Linked DNA regions of Homo sapiens. The protein of the gene in region 1 purifies or fractionates together with the protein of each later gene. This does not show direct contact. Each region holds a gene or a part of one and is shown on either strand. Other genes may lie near its edges.

The links. The genes of interacting proteins can lie anywhere in the genome.
Region 2: the proteins of CRAT (region 1) and ACOX1 fractionate together in Homo sapiens (co-fractionation; one large-scale study listed by BioGRID). This does not show direct contact.
Region 3: the proteins of CRAT (region 1) and SPATA2 purify together in Homo sapiens (affinity purification with mass spectrometry; one large-scale study listed by BioGRID and IntAct). This does not show direct contact.
Region 4: the proteins of CRAT (region 1) and MLF1 purify together in Homo sapiens (affinity purification with a luminescence readout; one large-scale study listed by IntAct). This does not show direct contact.

Annotation. Positions count from the first base shown.
Region 1 is NC_000009.12:129,094,294-129,097,543, reverse strand, and holds the end of CRAT (carnitine O-acetyltransferase), read left to right. Parts: intron 1-231; coding exon 232-294; intron 295-1,408; coding exon 1,409-1,546; intron 1,547-1,931; coding exon 1,932-2,147; 3' UTR 2,148-2,750; downstream 2,751-3,250. UniProt on the Homo sapiens protein: Catalyzes the reversible transfer of acyl groups from carnitine to coenzyme A (CoA) and regulates the acyl-CoA/CoA ratio. Also plays a crucial role in the transport of fatty acids for beta-oxidation.
Region 2 is NC_000017.11:75,958,667-75,962,166, reverse strand, and holds part of ACOX1 (peroxisomal acyl-coenzyme A oxidase 1), read left to right. Parts: intron 1-1,791; coding exon 1,792-1,952; intron 1,953-3,500. UniProt on the Homo sapiens protein: Involved in the initial and rate-limiting step of peroxisomal beta-oxidation of straight-chain saturated and unsaturated very-long-chain fatty acids.
Region 3 is NC_000020.11:49,909,030-49,912,529, reverse strand, and holds part of SPATA2 (spermatogenesis-associated protein 2), read left to right. Parts: exon of another isoform or gene 1-2,078; intron 2,079-3,500.
Region 4 is NC_000003.12:158,598,694-158,602,193, forward strand, and holds part of MLF1 (myeloid leukemia factor 1), read left to right. Parts: intron 1-1,320; coding exon 1,321-1,480; intron 1,481-3,500. UniProt on the Homo sapiens protein: Involved in lineage commitment of primary hemopoietic progenitors by restricting erythroid formation and enhancing myeloid formation.

The DNA of each region.
Region 1 (3,250 bases):
AGAAACGGGATTTCACCATGTTGGCCAGGCTGGTCTCAAACTCCTGACCTCAAGGGATCCACCTGCCTCGGCCTCCCAAAGTGCTGGGATTACAGGCGTGAGCCACCGCTCCCAGCCCCAATATTTCCTCTTAAAGAGCTCAGAATCTAGTGCTGGGTGGGGGTGGGCTACTGAGGTGGGCCAGAAGAGAAGGGACAGTGCTTCAGCTCCCTCTGACCCTCACCACTCTAGGAGCACCAGAAGGTGGAGCTGCTGCGGAAGGCCGTGCAGGCCCACCGAGGCTACACCGACCGGGTAAGTGAGCCCGCTTGTGCCTACTCACTTGTCCCTTAGTGTCAGCCATCTGTCTGTCCCTCTGACTGTCCGTCCCTGCAGCCAATGGCTGCCAACCCTTTGCTAGGACCACATCTCCCCCAACCTGGGAGCACCTGGAGCCAGGCTGAATAGCCCCCAACTTTTTCTTTTTTTTTTTTTTTGAGATGGAGTCTTGCTCTGTCGCCCAGGCTGGAGTGCAGTGGTGTGATTTAGGCTCACTGCAACCTCCGCCTCCCAGGTTCAAGCAATTCTCCTGCCTCAGCCTCCCAAGTAGCTGGGATTACAGGCACCCACCACCACACCTGGCTAATTTTTCCATTTTTAGTAGAAACAGGGTTTCACCATGTTGACAGGCTGGTCTCAAACTCCTGACCTCAGGTGATCCACCCACCTCAGGCTCCCAAAGTGCTGGGATTATAGGCGTGAGCCACCGTGCCCGGCCAAATATCCCCATTTTAAAGTTGGAGAAACCCAGCCTGGGCCCAGTAACTGCCTTGGTTCCAGGTTCCAGGGCTGGCCTGGGCCCTAGATGTTGGGTCACACTCTCTCCCTGATGCTAGGTATCTCTCCCTGACGCTAGGTATACATGGTCCAGCAGACAGCCAGTTTCCTGCCCTCCAGCAGCTTGGGCTGCAGTCAGGGAGGTGGCTGTCTGGATGCGTGTCCTGGCTCTGTCTCTGAGCACCTGTGTGTCCAGGCTCTGACCGTGCTACATGCACACGTCCATTTAGAGCTCACCGCCACCCTGCGAGGGGAGTGTAGGACTCACCCCTCTTTACAGATGAAGACACTACAGTTCCAGAACCTAAGCAACCTGCCAAGGCCCTGCAGCCAGGATGGGGCTAGGTCACCCAGCTCCAGGGCCCTGCCCTACAACCCTGCACTTTCCTGCCTCCCTGGGCAAATCCCCGCCCCTCCCTGAGCCTTGGTTTCCCCATCTGTGAAACGAAGGCTCTCTCTGGCCAGAATACTCTGGTCTTGTGGTTTTGAGTGGCCAGTGCCTGCGAAGGGTGGCGCTGCCACAGGCTGAAGAGGGCAGGGATACCCCGGGGGTCCACAGCCCCTGCTCCTGACAGCTCTCCCACCCCAACAGGCCATCCGCGGGGAGGCCTTTGATCGACACCTGCTGGGCCTGAAGCTGCAGGCCATCGAGGACCTGGTGAGCATGCCCGACATCTTCATGGACACCTCCTACGCCATCGCCATGCACTTCCACCTCTCCACCAGCCAGGTGGGCCACTGCCCCAGGTGCCCCGGGGGCTGGAGGCAGAGAACCCACTGGTAGTTTGATGTGGCCTACACAGGCCCCACTGACCCATTGCCAACACAGCTGAGTTCCAGAGGAGGAGCTGGGGGCAGGGGCCTCTCTGCAGCCCAGGCAGGCTGAGAAGGGGTCAGTGCTCCTCATGGGAGAATCAGCTTCGCTGACTCACTGGTCAGGTATAAAGGAACATTTGATTCGTGCCAGCCTGTAGTGGTTGCTGGGATATAGCAGGGGACAGACCATGATCCCTGCCCACAAGGGGCCTGCAGTCTTGGCGGAAGCACAGGCAGCCTGGGAAGTGCTGGGGGCGTCAAGGTAGGGGAGCTGAGAGCTTTCATCCTGCCGTCCCCAGGTCCCTGCCAAGACAGACTGTGTCATGTTCTTCGGGCCCGTGGTCCCCGACGGCTACGGTGTCTGCTATAACCCCATGGAGGCCCACATCAACTTCTCCCTGTCGGCCTACAACAGCTGCGCGGAGACCAACGCCGCCCGCCTGGCGCATTACCTGGAGAAGGCGCTCCTGGACATGCGTGCCCTGCTGCAGAGCCACCCCCGGGCCAAGCTCTGAGCCCCTAGGACTCAGGCCTGCCAATGCCACAGCCAAGCCCACCCTGGGATGGGCCACCCACCAGGGCTCAGCTCCTTGGTTCCCTCTTCCTTGGTTCCCTCTTCCCTGGTCCCCCCAAATCTACTGAGCCACGGACCGCATCCTCCAGGGGGCCTGCAGGCCCCAGCCAAGTGCCTTCCGTGGGTCATCCCAGCACCTGCCAGGGCCCGACCTGGGGCTGAGTGCAGAGGCTGAGCAGGACGTTAGGCCCGGGCCCCTGGCACGTCCTCCACCGGTGCCTCCTCTGGGGAAGGGAACCAGCCCTCCAGAGCAGGAGACTGGCAAGAGCTCTTTGTCTCACCAGCTCAGCCCCGGCCACTCCCTGCCAACTCCATGACCAGGCCACCATCTGTACCCTGCTTCCCAAACTCCCAGGACCTGGAGACAGGATTGTCTGGGGCCGAGGGGCCAGGGTGTGAGGTTTCACCTCCGTTGCGGCTGTGCTCCTGTGGATAACATTGCTAGCGAGCCGCCTCTGGTTCCACTCAGCTTGGTTCCTGCCCCCGCCCTGCTGTATGATATTAATGTGGAAGGTCATCAATAAAGGGGAATTGTGTTGGTGAAGAGGTGTTTCAGCTGAGAGGCAGGCAGGGTGGGGGCAGGCACCTGGCCTTGCCCTCTTCAGCTTTCCCTGGGCCTCGGAGCTGGTGTCCAAGCAGCTGGTGGGCCTGAGGGCTTTGGCCCAGGAGCCAAGGTCCAGCTGTGACCTTGGGGCACTGGGCCCAGAACCATACCAGAGCCAGGGCTGCGTCCTTCACCAGCAGCTTCCCACCTACCTCTGGCTTGGGCCTTCCCAAGTCCCATGGGTTGTGGGTAGGGGCAACTCTCCCAGGGGACTGTGGGGCCCAGCAGGCCCAGGTCTGGTGGGCTGATGAATGTTGCTAATACCCAGGGGCCCAGGGTGTCATTCTACTTCCCCCAACTGAGCCCAGCAAAAGTAGGAGTACAGCAGCAGGCTCAGCTTGCCCCAGGCCCAGCCGCTGCCAGGACAGACACCTTCGGGGGTGGGCAGGTGCGATCAGAGCAGAACCACATACCTGCCCATAGCCCCGTGTCCATGGCTG
Region 2 (3,500 bases), on another chromosome or scaffold:
GCACTGTCAGTTTTTGTATTAAAGTGTTTCAGTAGAGCGTGGCCGAATATTTGACATGATGAATCTGAATGAAATGATCAGAGCTATGTGAGGAATATGGTTCTACGCTGGATGTTTTGTGGACAAAACAGAAAAAAAATCCCAGCCTAGAAGCATTATTGAAATTGCATCGAGGAAAAACTATAATCTGGGGGTCATACTGTCACTCTGAGAGAACTACTATGTTCTGTCTCGCTTTCTCATCAGAGGAAATCCTTGTACCAGTACCACTCAAATTCTCTGTTCTCCGACTCCTGGCTTCAAGCGATTCTGCCTCAGCATCCCAAGTAGCTGGGATTACAGGCACATGCCACCACACCCAGCAAATTCTCCATTCTATACAACTTTTTTTTTTTTTTTTTTTTTTTGAGACAGAGTCTCGCTCTGTTGCCCAGGCTGGAGTGCAGTGGTGTGATCTCGGCTCACTGCAACCACCGCCTCCCAGGTTCTCCTGCCTCAGTCTCCCAAGTAGCTTGGATTACAGGCATGTGCCACCACACCTGGCTGATTTTGTATATTTAGTAGAGATGGGGTCTCACCATGTTGGTCAGGCTGGTCTTGAACTCCTGACCTCAGGTGATCCGCCCACCTTGGCCTCTCAAAGTGCTGGGATTACAGGCATGAGCCACGGTGCCCGGCCTTTTTTTTTTTTTTTTTTTTTTGTATTTTTAGTAGAAACGGGATTTCACTATGTTGGCCAGGCTGGTCTCAAACTCCTGACCTCAAGTGATCCGCCTGCGTCAGCCTCCCAAAGTGCTAGGATTACAGGCATGAGCCACCATGCCTGGCCCTATACAACTTTTCAAATTCTCTCTCTCTTTTTTTTTTTTTTTTTGAGATGGAGTCTCACTGTGTCGCCCAGGCTAGAATGCAGTGGTGTTATCTTAGCTCACTGCAACCTCTGCCTCCTGGGTTGGAGCAATTCTCCTGCCTCAGCCTCCTGAGTAGCTGGGATTACAGGTGTGCACCACCATGCCTGCTTAATTTTTGTATTTTTAGTAGAGACAGGGTTTCGCCATGTTGGCCAGGCTGGTCTTGAACTCCTGACCTCAGGTGATCCACCCACCTCGGCCTCTCAGAGTGCTGAGATTATAGGTGGGAGCCACTGCACCTGGCCAATTCTCTCTTATTTATTTATTTATTTTTTTTGAGACAGAGTCTCACTCTGTCACCCAGGCTGGAATGCAGTGGGCATGATCTCGGCTCACTGCAACCTCCGCCTCCTAGGTTCAAGCGATTTTCCTGCCTCAGGCTCCCAAATAGCTGGGACTACTGGCTGGCGCCACCACGTTCAGCTGATTTTTGTATTTTTAGTAGAGTCAGGGCTTTGCCATGTTGGCCAGGCTGGTCTCGAACTCCTGACTTAAGGTGATCTGACCGCCTTGGCCTCCCAAAGTGCTGAGATTGTAGGCATGATCCACTGCACTGGCCTCTCAAATTTTCTTTATTTCCTTTGATTTAATTCCTGGGCGAGGATCCTCTGCCTTGCACGTGTGGTTTTGTGCTGCATTGGCTTTGGAATCAGTAACCAATCCCTGTCCTCGTACTCCTTGCCGACTCAGGAAAAATGGAAATTAACAAGAGCTATAAAGTAATACAGAAAGGGACAGTGCTCCCATCTATGATTAAGTGCACGCAACTAATTCATACTTAAGGTTTTTTTGTCTCCTTCCCTTGCTCTATTTAAATTGCTGATTCTCTCACACCTGATGACTCTTCTCTCAAATGCCCATCCTTGATATTTCCTCGAAGTTTTGTGCACCGAGGGCGGCCTGAGCCTCTGGATCTTCACTTGGGCATGTTCCTGCCCACCTTGCTTCACCAGGCAACTGCGGAGCAGCAGGAGCGCTTCTTCATGCCCGCCTGGAACTTGGAGATCATTGGCACTTATGCCCAGACAGAGATGGGTCATGGTATGGAGTATTCAGTCTACCTTCTGGGTTGGGCGGGCCCCTGTGAGCTTACCATGTGTGGAGTGCCCACCATGTGCCATCGATGGTGTGTCGATGTTCTATGGTCTGTTTAAATGAGCTCTTTCTGCAGAGTCCAGGTTTTGGTATAAACACTGCTTTGGTGAGTGGGAATTAAAGACCATGATACTGATAAAATGATTGTCCTTTTTATACCATAGTTCCCCTTCAGAGGGTCAAGAATTGCAAATCAGGCCTTATTTACCAAGTGGTTTTTCAATGTTACTGAGGTTGTATAGAATCTGTGTGCATATACAACCCGAAGCTGTTTTTTTCTTCATTACTATCTGATTACCTTTACTACTGATACCTTAATGAGTACAAATTCCAGAAGAAATACAAATAATAGTTTGTGTACTCTTGGATTTGCTTGAGGGAAATGAGTAGCTTATAACTGACGTGTGTGACATTTTGGAGTTATTTGTACTTTGAGTCAATCAGTAGTTCTGCAAGTGACTTGGCTGGAGAGTGAAAAAACCAAGATAAGCCGAACTTGCAGGCATTTGGTTTCAGACTCTGTATCTCCACCTTTCATTGATCTTTCCACCCCCCACCTGCTTTCTTCATGCACCTGGGTGGGCTGGAGGTGGCCGCTGTTCCTCTTTGTATCTTCTCTGAATTGGGTCCGTGTTTGCCATTCATTTGCTTATGGCTTCTCTTTTTCTGCTCTGACGTTTCAGAAAAACTGGTCTAGTGTGTATTTGCCACTTGCTCCTTATTTCTATACAGCTGCTGCTTTTTATTTGGTGTTGAATAGTATTTTACAGGATTTTCATGAGACTCCAAGTGGAATACTATTTGTTTCAGTTGTGCTTTTGAAAACATTTTGTCCTTATCTGTTCTGTTTAATGTTATCTGCTTTTCTGTAAAAGCTGCTTCTTTGATGAAAGATGTCTGTGTCTGATTTGTTGACTCCCACTCGGGAAAGTTGTGGATTGCACATAAGTTGGTTATTCAACTTGGAAGCTTCTAAATGTTTCAAAGTGTGTTTAATGAGGTCTAAGCGTTATGAAAGCAGATTGGTAAAAGGTTCCCAACGTTTGCTTTAGTACAGTATTTTTGTAGAGACTGCCACCTAGAACATTTTTCTATGACTCTTTTCAAATAATTTTGATATATTTGTGTTAAGATTTAAAACATAAGATCCTGTCTATCCCAGTACACATAAGAAACTGGAAACTCTTCCTTGCCACATTAATGAACCAGCAGGACTAAGTTAGGCCTGCCATTGGAAATCTCTAGGGTCAACTGAGACCTTATTATTGGACCTTTAGGAATTTTTAAAAGTCACATTTCAGGTCATTTCCCCAATAACAGTTATACTTTTATACTTTTTTTTTTTTTTTTTTTGAGACGGAGTCGTGCTCTGTCGCCCAGGCTGGAGTGCAGTGGCGCGATCTCAGCTCACTGCAAGCTCCACCTTCCGGGTTCACGCCATTCTCCTGCCTCAGCCTCCCGAGTAGCTGGGACTACAGGCACCCACCACCATGC
Region 3 (3,500 bases), on another chromosome or scaffold:
TGGCAGCTTCTCTTAGATAAGTCAAGAATGGTAAATGCATGTGTGACTATCCTCTCCAGTGGTGCAATACATTTATTTATGTAGAGATGGAGTTTTTGCTCTGTTGCCCAGGCTGGAGTGCAATGGCACGATCTCAGCTCACTGCAACCTCTCCCTCCTGGGTTCACGCCATTCTCCTGCCTCAGCCTCCTGAGTAGCTGGGATTACAGGTGTTCGTCCAGCTAATTTTTGTATTTTTAGTAGAGGCGGGGTTTCGCTATGTTGGCCAGGCTAGTCTCAAACTCCCAATCTCAGGCGATCCACCCACCTTGGCCTCCCAGAGTTGTAGGATTACAGGCGTGAGCCACCGCGCCTGGCCTGCATTTTTATTTTTTAAGAGAATATACATTTTAAATTGTTTATTTTTTTATGGACAGAACAGTATGAAGTTAGAGCACATACCTACTTTGATACTAGGTGGTATGCTCTTCCAGCTAGAGCTGCAGGCAGGATGTGTCTCCTTTATTGCTGTCCTCTACCTGTCCCACCCATCCCCATTCCCCGACTGGGTCCAGCTCAGGCAGAGGGTGGGGGCTGCAGAAATGCTTGCTGGACATGGGAATCGTGGGGTGGTGAGAGGAATACAGGTTCCAAGTCAGAAGGCCAGGCTTGGATTATCGGGTCCATCATCTGCTAACCTTGAGCTACTTGTCGTACCTCATGCCATCTTTCTGAGCCCGTTTCTTTGCTCTCCAGCTGATCTCCCAGGATTCTTGGGAGGTACCAATGAGAAACTAAAGTGATGGCATCGTGAATGCAGACATCCTTTGCAGCATCCATTTCTCTTTTTCTCTTTTCTTTTTCTTTTTCTTTTTTTTTTTTTAGAGACGGAGTCTCGCTCTGTTGCCCAGGCTGGAGTGCAATGGGGCGATCTCGGCTCACTGCAGCCTCCGCCTCCTGGGTTCTAGCAATTCTCCTGCCTCAGCCTCCCGAGTAGCTGTGATTACAGGCGCATGCTGCCACACCCGTCTAATTTTTTTTTAAATTTTGGTAGAGACGGGGTTTCACCGTGTTGCCCAGGCTGGTCTCGAACTCCTGAGCTCAGGCAATCCACCTGCCTCGGCCTCCCAAAGTGCTAAGATTACAGGCGTGAGCCACCGTGCCTGGCTGCAGCATCCATTTCACCTACTTTATCAAGCACAGGCAGGCTCTGTGTTAGGCATCGTGGTGAACAACACAGACATGGTCCTTGCCTTTATGGAGCTTACCACGAGCTTACCAGCTTACCAGGGAGGGTGAGGGGTGGACAAAGAGAGGAAGCTAATGAATGAATGAAGTTGATAGTTTCAGATTGTGGTTATCGTAGGAGAATGTGACAGTGTGGAACTGGGAAGGTGAGATAGGGTGGTACCTCTAGAGGCTGATGTTTGAGCTGAGGCCTGAATGATGAGAATCTTCCTGAAGCAGAATTTTATCCCAAGTGGATTTTGTTTTCTTTTGTAAAGACAGGGTATTGCTATGTTGCCCAGGCTGGTCTCGAACTCCTGGCCTTGAGCAATCCTCCTGCCTTGGCCTTCCAAAGTTTAGGGATTACAGGCGTGAGCCCCCGCACCTGGCCCCTAAATGGATGTGTTTGCCTCCTGTACTCCTCAGCCTTATTTGTCACTGTAGCACTGGGCTCCCTCAGCAGTGCAGTGTGTTGGAGACAGTGGCCTCTCTGTGTCCCTAGTTTTGCTACACATCCCACCTCTCACCGCACCATTAGTACTCCCAGGAGTCTCCTCCTGGGGACAAAATCTGTGGAGGAGCCAGACTACTGGCTCTTTGAGATGAGGATGATTTTGTTGACCTCCTGATAGTTGCTGGGCTCGTAGGACCTTCCTAGCTGAACACAGGTCTGCTAAAGGAGTCCCCCACATGCCAGGCCCAGTCCTGCTGCAGCTTCTCTCAGCCCCTTGCTGTCTCCCACACTCAGCAGACATGAAGCACACAGGTCACCTTACTGAGCAAGATGGTCACAGGCCTGCACCCACGGAGCTTCTGGGCAGGAGCAGCAGGACCAGAGCATGTGAAAATGCACATCTACCACCCAGTCAGAGGTATTTGCCCCACTCAGAGAAGGCCTGTCCACTTAGGGGTACAGCACCTTCAGACAACAGCAATGGCCATCAAGGACTTCCCGGAGCCGGCTCTCTGAGCAGCTTCATATTCCATCATGCATAATCCTCTCGCCAGCTCTGGACAGAGGCGCTATTATTAACCCCGTTTTATAGGAGAAAACCGACACCCAGGGAGGTGGAGCAATTTGCCCAAGTAACCTGGAGAAGCAGCCCTGGCCTCACTCGCAGGTGCCTGGCCTTGGACCCCGTGTCCGTGACCCTGCGCGTGTTGTCTCCCCTGGCCCTGGCAGTGTCCCTCCATTAATCCGGATTCGCTCCCAGCGTTGTGGTGACAAGAATATTGCTGGATCTGTGCCTGTTCTACTAACAAGTGGCTAAGCAGATGACAAGATTGTGTAAAGCCTGTGTCCCAGCTCAGAACATTCTATCCTCTCCCAACAGGGGGCTGTCAAGCGCTCTGGTGATAAAGGGGCCGCAGGCTGTCAAAGGCCGGTAACAGCACTCCAGGGGCCGGTAGCCACGGTGGCCTCTTTTGAAAATTGTAAATAAGACCGTATCTCTCTCCCCTCGCTGTAAACTCTTCAGTGGCTTCACGTGGCTCTTTGTATAAAATATCGAATTCTGAATGTGCTCTTGCGGCCTTGGGGCTGAGGGTCCCGCTGATGCTGGCATCTGCCTCTCCTCATGCCCCTGCCCTCGTGGCCTCGGCCTCACTGGCTGCAGTTCTGTTACTGTTCCAGGCTTCCTGCCTCAGGAAAGCAGGGTGTGGTGGGTAAGGGCATGGACTTTGGAGCCAGATTGCCTGGGTTCTGAGCTCAGCTTCTCTGCCTCCTGAGAGTTCTATAACCTTGGACAGTTTCTTTTTCTTAAAAATTTTTTTGTATTTTTGTAGAGACGTGGTTTCACCGTGTTTCCCAGGCTGGTCTCGAGCTCCTGGACTCAAGCCATCCTCCCCCGTCAGCCTCCCAAAGTTCAGGAATTACAGGTGTGAGCCACTGTGCCTGGCCTACCTTGAGCAGTTTCTAATGTCTGTGTCTCAGTTTGCACATGGTCCACTGGGGCTGCCTGTAGCGTCTCTCTCCTAGGATTGTTTAAGAAGAAAAAGTGAGGCTGGGTATGGGGGCTCACACCTGTAATCCTGGCACTTTGGGAGGCCAAGGCTGGTGGATCACTTGAGGTCAGGAGTTCGAGACCAGCCTGGCCAACATGGTGAAACCCCATCTTGACTAAAAATACAAAAATTAACCAGGCGTGGTGGCAGGTGCCTGTAATCCCAGCTACTTGGGAGGCTGAGGCAGGAGAATCGCTTGAACCCGGGAGGCGGAGGTTGCAGTGAGCTGAGATCACGCCACTGCACTCCAGCCTGGGCTACAGAGCAAGGATCCATCTCAAAAAAAAAGT
Region 4 (3,500 bases), on another chromosome or scaffold:
TCTCTTGCTTTGTTTTCTTTTTAAGCGAAAATGTACAGAGGCAGTTAAACCTTCTAATACATTCCTCTGAGGTCTATTTTCCCTTTCTCCCCTTCTCAGAGATTACCATTTTCCTGTATCTGGAGTTTATCATTTTCACGCATGTTTTTACAATTTTATTACTTCACGTTTCTGTCATTAAAAAAATGGATTATTTTCCAGATTTCCCAACATTACATAAAGGGTATCATATTGCATATGTCCTCTGCAACTTGTCTTTGCTGAGTAATATGCTTCTGAGATTTATTCAGCTTGATACATGTGGCCCTGGTTTCTTTAACTTCTATGTAGTATCCAAAATATGAATATATTATGATTAATACGCTTCTGAGATTTATTCAAGTTGATACATGTGGCCCTGGTTTCTTTAACTTCTATGTAATATCCAAAATATGAATGTACCATGATTTTTAAATCATTTTCTGTCAATAGATATGTAGGTGAGTCTAATCTTTCACTAATTCATCTTTATACATGGCTCCTTATACAGAGTCTAGGAGTGGTATTGCTGAGTTGTAGGGTATGTGTACTTTCCTCTTTACCTAGCGTTTCCAAGCTACTATCCCAGTGATTGAAATTGTTGGCTTCCAAAACTGTGGCTTGTGAGTTTCCATTTCTCTACTTCCTTGTTAGTACTTATAGTAAAAATTTAGGTTTACCAATCTAATGAATGTGAAGTAGTACATTTTTTAGTTCTTACATATAAAGATGAACCTTTTAATGATGCTTTTGCCATAGTTCTGCTAATTAATCTCAGACATTTTAATTTTAACTTTCTAAAAGTGACAAACTTAAATGTAAACAGAATATAATTGTAGATGTCCCACAGTAAATCATGTTAGTTGCTATCAGAAATATTCTTATAATACTTCCATAGAGTTGATAGTCGGGAATCATGAGATTCAAGCCAATCAATATGACTGATGAATAATTAGTTGCCCTTATTTGTAGGAATCCCACCATAAACTTCCTTCTATTACATTATCTAAGACAGTCTTGAAGGCATTAAACTATAATTGCTACTTTTGTTTTAATATTTGATTACAATTTGGAAAAAGGTTAAATTGTATGGGTTCTGTTTGTTGTAGACATTTTCATTTTAAGGAGTTCAGGAAATATCAGAGACTTATTACCACAGTTTTACCACAAGTTAATAGTGGAACTGAGCACACATTATTTTTAGAGCAATAGATCTATGGCCATATCTCTGTAGGTAAGCTGGCCCTGAGATATACATTCTATATATATTTAAATAATAATAAAATTTCTTTATTTTTACAGATAAAGGAAACCAGGAAAGCAATGAGAGATTCTGACAGTGGACTAGAAAAAATGGCTATTGGTCATCATATCCATGACCGAGCTCATGTCATTAAAAAGTCAAAGAACAAGAAGACTGGAGATGAAGAGGTCAACCAGGAGTTCATCAATATGAATGAAAGTAAGTTATCACAAAAAAATAATATTCTTTCTTATAAATTTAAAATAACAGCCGTACTTGATGAATTTTTTTTTAGAAACATGTCATAAGATGTAGTTTTTGAATAATGCATGTAGAGAATACCTTGTGAAAGTAATAGGATTGTGTTTTCATCCTTTCATAGGAGAGCTCTTTTTTATAGTGATTTTTGGCAATATGGGATATTACTTATTTTTATTTTATCCTTGGAAAGTGGAATCTTTTGAATTGTTATTTAGTAATATCATTAGGCAAAATGTGTCTTTAAATATTTTTTCTGATTATCAAGAAAGTACATTTGAAAAGTATAAAGACAAAAATAATCCATAATCCAAACTCAAAATACTAGTAATATTTTAATGTATTTCTTCCTAATCATTTTATATATATAAACACTTTTTTCTCAAATTATTATTCTACTTTTATATAGTTTATATTGTGCTTATTTTAATTTACCATTATAATTGTAAAGTTACTTATGATGCTATTTTTCAAAAGCATTTTAAGTGGTTACCTTAAAGTTTTATTGTAAATAAGCCATAATTTTTACTTAAATCATTCTGTACTGTTCAGTAGTACTTAGGCTTTTGTATAGACAAGATTTTAATTTCTGTTATATGTTAGATTACATGTATGTCTCTCTCTCTCAAGTAAATCTTTTCTTTTTCTGGATTTTGTATTTATTCTTCAATGCATTTACATCCTTCTAGTGTCCTAACTCTTCTCCCTGTAGTTTTTAATTATATTACAATTTATTAACAAATTTAATCATTAAATTTAAATTATTTTTATTAATTTTTAAATCAATATTAAGCTTTTATATTTAATTGTATTAATTCAATAATGAAATTATATTAAAATTTAGTTGGATTCATCTCCTAGTTTCAGAAAGTATTTTGAATAATGTTTTTCCATAATAGAGTGTTTAAATTTTAAATTGTTGTATTAAAAAAGAAATTCTGGCCGGGCACGGTGGCTCATGCCTGTAATCCCAGCACTTTGAGAGGCCGAGGCAGGTAGATCATGGGGTCATAAGTTCGAGACCAGCCTGGCCAACATGGTGAAACCCCATCTCTACTAAAAATACAAAAATCAGGGCCCGGCACAGTGACTCACGCCTGTAATCCTGGCACTTTGGGAGGCCAAGGCGGGCAGATCACGAGGTCAGGAGTTCAAGACCAGCCTGACCAACATGGTGAAACCCCGTCTCTACTAAAAATACAAAAATTAGCCGGGCATGGTGGTGCACGTGCCTGTAATCCCAGCTACTCGTGGGGCTGAAGCAGGAGAATCGCTTGAACCCAGGAGGCGGAGGTTGCAGTGAGCCAAGATCGAGCCCTTGCACTCCAGCCTGGGCGACAGAGCGAGACTCTGTCTCAAAAAAATAAATAAATAAAATAAATAAAAATACAAAAATCAGCTGGGCATGGTGGCCCGCGCCTGTAATCCCAGCTACTTGGGAGGCTGAGACAGGAGAATCTCTTGAACCCGGAAGGCAGAGGTTGCAGTGAGCCAAGATCACGCATTGCACTCCAGCCTGGGCAAAAGAGCAAGACTGTGTTGGGTGGAGGGGAGGAAGAAATTCTATTAACATTGGGGTTTGATAAAATTATTCTTTTTTTTTTTTTTTTTTTTGAGACGGAGTCTCGCTCTGTTGTCCAGGCTGGAGTGCAGTGGTGCAGTGGTGTGATCTCGGCTCACTGCAAGCTCCGCCTCCCAGGTTCACGCCATTCTCCTGCCACAGCCTCCTGAGTAGCTGGGACTACAGGTGCCCGCCACCATGCCTGGCTAATTTTTTCTATTTTTAGTAGAGACGTGGTTTCACCATGTTAGCCAGGATGGTCTTGATCTCCTGACCTTGTGATCCGCCCACCTCAGCCTCCCAAAGTGCCGGGATTACAGGCGTGAGCCACCACACCTGGCTGGGGTTTGATAAAATTATTCTTATGCAGTAAGATAGAAGCCATGATATTGTGACCTGTGTTTATTTGTAACCTCTGTA